Linked DNA regions of Homo sapiens. The protein of the gene in region 1 purifies or fractionates together with the protein of each later gene. This does not show direct contact. Each region holds a gene or a part of one and is shown in the gene's direction. Other genes may lie near its edges. The genes, in order: ARPC4-TTLL3 and ACTR3.

What was found.
Region 2: the proteins of ARPC4-TTLL3 (region 1) and ACTR3 fractionate together in Homo sapiens (co-fractionation; one large-scale study listed by BioGRID). This does not show direct contact.

Annotation. Positions count from the first base shown.
Region 1 is NC_000003.12:9,833,621-9,837,096, forward strand, and holds the end of ARPC4-TTLL3 (ARPC4-TTLL3 fusion protein), read left to right. Parts: intron 1-806; coding exon of another isoform or gene 807-883; intron 884-1,060; coding exon 1,061-1,201; coding exon of another isoform or gene 1,202-1,305; 3' UTR 1,306-1,473; coding exon of another isoform or gene 1,474-1,869; 3' UTR 1,870-2,736; downstream 2,737-3,476. Other genes in the region: tubulin monoglycylase TTLL3, read left to right, coding at 1,061-1,287, 1,474-1,869.
Region 2 is NC_000002.12:113,955,803-113,959,623, forward strand, and holds part of ACTR3 (actin-related protein 3), read left to right. Parts: intron 1-1,557; coding exon 1,558-1,653; 3' UTR 1,654-3,821. UniProt on the Homo sapiens protein: ATP-binding component of the Arp2/3 complex, a multiprotein complex that mediates actin polymerization upon stimulation by nucleation-promoting factor (NPF).

The DNA of each region.
Region 1 (3,476 bases):
CACCCCACCAAAGAGCCACCAGTAGCAAGTAAAAGCCACTACTCACAAAGTATTGTTTAAAAATACACAGCCAAATTAGCTGGGCACGGTGGTGTGAGCCTGTGGTCCAGGCTACTCGCGAGGCTAATGAGGATCGCTTGAGCCCGGGAGGTTAAGGCTGCAGTGAGTTATGATCGCACCTCTGCACTCCAGCCTGGGAGACAGAGCGAGATGCTGTCTTAAAAACAAAGACACAAAAAAAGCACTTTGGGAGGCCGAGGCGGGCAGATCACTTGAGGTCAGGAGTTCGAGACCAGCCTGGCCAACATGGTGAAACCCCATCTGTACTAAAAAATACAAAAATTAGCCGAGTGTAGGGGCAGGTGCCTATAATCCCAGCTACTTGGGAGACTGAGGCACGAGAATCGCTTGAACCCAGGAAGCGGAGGTTGCAGTGAGCCGAGATTGCACCATTGCACTCCAGCCTGGGCAACAAGAGCAAAACTCTGTCTCAAAAAAAAAAAAAAAAAAAAAACCCAGCCAAATGAGTATTGTCTCCTCCAAAGTAGTCACTCTGCCTCACAGAGTGACTTATTTCAAAGATGACCTGATTTCAAAGATGCCAGGACTTAAGCCCAGGTTGCTCTCTCCAGCGCCCACGCTTTTCCCACTGCAGTATTCTGCCTTTGCCTTCAAGCAGTCACCTCTCGGGGAAAGAACTAACACATGTCCAGCACTTAACAGTTTGCCCCATACCGCTACCTGCCCAGCTCCTTTAGTGTTTACACCAACCTAGCAAGGTAGGTGCTATTATCCCCATTTTCCAGCCGAGGTATCAGGAAGTTTAAGGAAGTTGCCCAAGGTTGCACAGCTCAGAAGGGGCACAGCTGGGATGCAGACCCAGGTCTGTTGGACTCTACCCTGTTTTCTTCTCACTGCCTCTGGAGGAGGAACCGGGAGGGCTCCGTCGGCCTTCACCCCATTCCCTCCATATCCCCCCATCCTCCACACGTACCTGTTAGGGCAGCTAGGCCACCTTGGGCCCCACCCCAGGGCCTCACAGCTTCTCTTGCTCCCACAGCCCGTCACCACTTCCCCAGCCTCCACACCAAGGCCCAGCTGCCTTCTCCCCATGTACTCCGACACCAGGGCCAGGTCCTCAGACGACAGCACAGCAAGCTGGTGGGCACTAAGGCCCTGTCGACCACAGGCAAGGCCTTGAGGACTCTACCCACGGCTAAGGTCTTCATTTCCCTCCCACCGAACCTTGATTTCAAGGTGGCACCCAGCATCCTGAAGCCAAGAAAGGTGGGCCTCGACCTGTGACTCACACCCAGTGGACAGTGCTGAGCACGGGGTCAGGGCTGGAGGGCACAGGCAGAGGGCAGCTCCCAGGCTGGCTGGCACCCCAAGGGAAGAGCTGGTCTCCCTCAGAAGCCCCTTCCTCCACAGACTTCTGATCATCTCCCTCTTCTCCCCTCCTTTCACACCGAGGCTCCTGCTCTCCTGTGCCTCCGAGGCCCCCAGCTGGAAGTGCCTTGTTGCCTCTGCCCTTTGAAGTCGGAACAATTCCTAGCACCTGTCGGAAGGTCAAGGCCAAAGGCAAATTCAAGGCCAGACTGTGACAAACCCAGGGCTGAGGCCTGCCCCATGAAGAGGCTGAGCCCCCTGAAACCCCTGCCCCTTGTTGGTACATTCCAGAGGCGCAGGGGCCTGGGGGATATGAAGCTAGGGAAGCCCCTGCTTCGATTCCCCACTGCCCTTGTCCTGGATCCAACACCAAATAAAAAGAAACAAGTGAAGTATTTGGGGCTTGACTCCATTGCTGTTGGAGGGTCAAGAGTGGATGGGGCGAGGCCGTGTACCCCAGGGTCCACAGCAAGAGCCTGAGGCCATCAGCAGCTCCTCCGTGCAGCGAGGCCCAGAATTCCCACCTAAGGACAGACATGGGGCTTCCTATTTAGGGACTCCCCCAGCATCTCCGATCCAGGGGTGGGGAGCGTGAGCCTTCACTTTACAGATGAAGAAACTGAGTCTGAAAGAGGAGGCATGGCTTACCCAAGATCACGTGGCAGTGAGTCGACGCAGGGACATATTGCCAGAACTGCCGAGCACTGGGAGCCCCCCAACCCCAGAGAACAAGCCAAGCTAGCAGAATGACACCTACCGGGCATAGGAACGTTAATGCCATGAGACAGGGGAAGGAATTGGCCTTGCCTAAACCTCAGCCCTTCTGCAGAGGGCATGGGTCTATCCCTTCTTCAGCAAGGGGCCAAGGTCACCTAAAAATGAAACATCCAATAAGCCACACCCACCTGAAGAAAAGTGTGGCACTGCTTAGTTGTAGTGGGTTGAACTGTGGTCCCCTGAAAAGAGATGTCTACTTGGACCCTGTGAATGTGACCTTATGTGGGAAAAGAGTCTTTGTAGCTGGGTATGGTGGCTCACACCTGTTATCCCAGCACTTTGAGAGGCCAAGGCAGGAGATCGCTTGAGCCCGCAAGTTCAAGACCAGTCTGGGCAACATGGTGAAACCGTTTCTACAGAAAATTAGCTGGGTGTGGTGGCACACACCTGTAGTCCTAGCTACTCGGGAGGCCTAGGTGGGAGGATTACCTGAGCCTGGGAAGATCAAAACTGTGGTGAGCTGTGATCACGCCACTGCGCTCTGAGCCTGGGAGACAGAGTGAAACCCTAAATCAAAAAAAAAAAAAAAGGTCTTTGCAGATGTAAATAAATTTAAGATCTTAAATGAGATAATCCCAATGACCAGTGTGGTGCTTACATTCAATGGCAAGTGTCTTCATAAGAAAGGATTAAGGGCCGGTGGCTCACTCCTGTAATCCTAGAATTTTGGGAAGGCTGAAGTAGGTGAATCACCTAAGGTCAGGAGTTCGAGACCAGCCTGGCCAACATGGCGAAACCCCGTCTCTACTAAAAATACAAAAATTAGCCGGGCATGGTGACATGTGCCTGTAATCCCAGCTACTCGGGAGGCTGAGGCAGGAGAATTGCTTGAACTCCAGAGGTGGGGTTGCAGTGAGCTGAGATCGCGCCACTTCACTCCAGCCTGGGCGACAGACTGAGACTCTGTCTCAAAAAAAAAAAAAAAAAGGAAAGATAAGGCTGAGGCAGGAGGGTTGCTTGAGTCCAGGAGTTGGAGGGTAGCCTGCTTGGGCAACATACTGAGACCCTGCTTTAAAAACAGAGATTCAAAAACAAAACAACAACAAAAACATTAGCCAGGTGTGGCGGCACGTGCCTGTAATCCCAGCAGGAGAATCGCTTGAACCTAGGAGGCAGAGGTTGCAGTGAGTAGAGCTCACACCACTGCACTCCAGCCTGGGAAACAGAGTGAGACTCTGTCTCAAAAAAAAGATAAGGAGGCTGAAGCGGGAGGGTTGCTTGAGGCCAGGAGTTGGAGGGTAGCCTGCCTGGGCAACATACTGAGACCCTGCTTTAAAAAATATAATAGAGTAAGAAGGCTGGGTGCAGTG
Region 2 (3,821 bases), on another chromosome or scaffold:
AATGGCATGATCTTGGCTCACTGCAACCTCCACCTCCTGGGTTAAAGTGATTCTCCTGCCTCAGCCTCCCAAGTAGCTGGGACTACAGGCATGCGTCACCACACCTGGCTAATTTTGCATTTTTAGCAGAGACTGGGTTTCATCATGTTGGCTAGGTTACTCTTGAACTCCTGACCTTGGGATCTGCCCACCTTGGCCTCCCAAAGCAAAGTGTTGGGTTTACAGGTGTGAGCCACTGCTCCTGGCCTTTATTATTATTATTATTTTTTATTGAGATGAGGTCTTACTATGTTGGGCCAGGCTGGTCTCAAACTCTTGGGCTCAAGTGATCCTTCCACCTCAGCCTCCCAAAGAGCGCTGAGTTTACAGGTGTGAGCTGCTGCGCCTGGCTGAAGCTTATGTTTAAATTTATATATATATATTTAAGATAGAAGAGTCCATCAATACTTGGAGAAGAACAAAGCAAATTCCTTTAAATTGTATCTCAAAATAATAGGAAACTTTGTATATATGTGTTTGTAGTATTTTAAAAATTGGAAGTAATTTAAATTTAATTGGAAGTCATTTGAATTTAATTTTTTTTTTTTTTTTAGCTTGCTAGACATTATTTTAGAGTGACCATTTTATACTATGTTTTAAAGTTTATCTGTAGGGAAAGTTCTGTTAAAACTGGTAATTTAGTCATCAGAAGGTCCTTGTTTGTTCTGTTTAAGTATTTAAAAACATTAAGGTAAAAGTTAAGCTTCATTGCATAGAAAGTATGATGTTTTACACTGAATAAAGGGAATTATTCTAAGAATCCTGTCCCCAAATTAAAATGTCTTTAAAGCCCCCTAAAAAGGTGTTCTAGTGTTCTAATACCATTAACCTAGGAAGTATTGGTGCTTTGTTCTGGTAGTGCATGCAATATTAAAATGAAGGAGCTTTTATCTGAATTATTGAATAACTGTACAACTTTGGATTTAAAACCATTTCCAACATAAGAGGTGAAAGTTATTTTTTTCCTCAATTTTAGTCTTCTTCAATTGGGCCATATAACCTAGTTGAGTTTGTGACTTTGCCTTGAGAAATGAGGTAACACAGCATGGAACAGTCTATCTTTTCCAGACCTTGAATGAGGAAGGCAAATGATCTAGACATTTCTTAGAACTAGACGAAAAATAGTCATAGCATGACTAGGAGTAGTTTTATCTGTAGTTAGGCGAATGCCGCTTCTTTACATTATTGGTGCAATGAAAGTATGGGAAAGTCTCAACAGAACAGACTGGACATTTGAGAACCTTCCATTTTTCAAAATTTCAGAATCCTCGCAGCAGGTGTGTGAGACAAGGATTGGGGACAGGAGTTAATTGCTCTTTTGGAGTTCCGATAAAGATTTATAGCTGATTTTAAGTCATGGCTGCTAGAATTTCTAAGCTTTCATGCCATGAATGGACTAATAATAAACATTTTAGACTTAACATCTATTTTAAAGCATCACTCTTAAAGTTTATTTCAATATACCTTCAAGATGGTAGATTTTTGACCCTTATAAAAATACATATTTTTTGTTTTCAGCCTGAGTTCTACCAAGTATGCCACACCAAAAAGGATTATGAAGAAATTGGACCTAGCATTTGTCGTCACAATCCAGTGTTTGGAGTCATGTCGTAAAATTGGCTTCATAGTTATTGGGGTTAGGGAGGTGGGGAAGAGATAATCTTTCTGATTACCTGTTTTGTCTGGATGGCTGGTTTTGAGGTTTTAAACCTGACTTGAAATAGTAACACCAAACATGATTATACAGGAATATTTTAATAAGTGTATCACCATGCAGATGTAGAAGAGAGCGAAAGTGATTGTGTTTTTCTTTAGATTGAATATTTGAATCTTATGTGTAACAAAAAGAAGTGGGTTTTAGTTCTTTCTGTGCCCTGATATTTTGTATATTAATGAATTATCCAAGATTCGATGGGATTTATCAGTGTGTAGATAGCTCTATAATGCTTGAATTGTACACTTCTAAGTGTGCAGTGCAAGAGCTTGTTTATATTTCATACTTTTTATACTTTGAGGAAAAAAAGTCAAAGAAAAATTGTATTTGAGGGAAAAAACCATGACCAAGTAAAGGATAAATTCAAAAAATAGCCTCATGAGACTTGGCATACACACTCGTGGGATTCCAGTTATTATGGAGTGCTTCCATCCCTCTCCACCCCTTCCCCCCAAAAGGTTTTCTTTGCAAGTGCTTTTGGAACTAAGAGCTAGTATCTTGGATTAACTGATGCCTGCTAGTGCTTTCTGATTACTCGCATTCTGTTTCTTGCTTTAAAAGAAGAGTAAAGACAAGAGTGTTGGACCAGTATTGCAGTTCTGTAGTGTCATTTCTTATAAAAAACAAAACAACAACAATAATTTATCAAAATTGGCATATTTAAAGCCTAACATTCTAATAAAGGCACAAATTTCTTTTTAATACTTGTTTCAGCCTCTTTAATCTCTTTATAAGTTAACTAATAAATCTATTTTCTTCAGACTTCTGCAATAGTTCTTTAAAATCACAACAGTTAGCAAGCTGACTTTTGTAATGTGCTCAATACAAATACTTGTGAACTTTTAATATGTTGAGTGCTTTCATTTTGATAACTGGATCTCCATTTGATATTTTCATTTGTATAACTCATTTGCAGTCTGAAAATTTTTTTTAGTGCCAGTCCCTGAACATATCATTGAAAGTTAATTTTCTTTGCATTTTAAAATATCTGGATTATGAAGAAAAAGTGATGAAAATAAATTAAAACTGAATTACCTTTTCTAATGTTTTTTTTTTTTAAGTAATGTAATTCTATTTTGTTTTTATGTATGTGATATCTGTTTCTGTTGAGATTTGGGAGTTATTGAAATCTCTGTAATGTGTATGGTAGAAAATTTCTTGTGACCTTAAAATTTTACCAGTTATTTATAGAAAGAGAAAATGGGAAATGTTTTATAGGCTTTTTACTAGCAGTATCAGTGAACACTTGAACTCCATTATTCATGAAAATAACACGTTAGGATTGGAATACGTCTATTCAAAAGTGAAAGAATATAAAGTGTTTAGTTTTTTGTTTTTACTCTAAAGATAGAATTGGGGAGTAAACTTCAGTTTTTGTTTAGAGTGGATCTGAATATTTAAAATCCTATAATAATTTTTGTGAATCTTCATTCTTTGAGTATGGGATTGTAAAAGACAAACTATATCCTACAGTAGTATCATCATCAGTATCAAAGGTCTCCTTTTTTTACTTGGAAAAGTAATTCACAAACATTATAAAAATACTATTCAAACAGTACCAAAGAGTAGATTAGCAAAAGTAAGTTTTTTTCCCTAGCCTGTCTCATTTTTCCATCATTACACAGACTACTTGGAATGTCTTAGATGTCCTTGTATTGTAATTTTCTGTGTAGGTAGAAATAAATGTAGCTTTCTTATTTTACACAAATAGGAACTTACTGTATATACTGTTCTGCACTTTGCTTTTATTAAAGATCTTTTGATAAAGAACTATATTGATAAGCAGTAAAGATGTCATGCTCCTGGCCCAATAAAATATTGTTAGCATTGTCATAAATATGTCTTTTCCACCGGCGATGGTTGGGTAGTTAAGTGAATAAGCTAGAAAGACATGTTTATAAAGCTATTTGATGACAATCTCAGGCATATTTATACAGAGATGTTCTTAACTGTTTGCTACAAAAACATGAAGATCAAAAACTTTCTTGAAGCTTACGCTTAACTTATTTGGGGAAACAAAACTCCAGCCCTTCTTGTGTATGTTCTGATATCCCTTTGCTCTACTTTT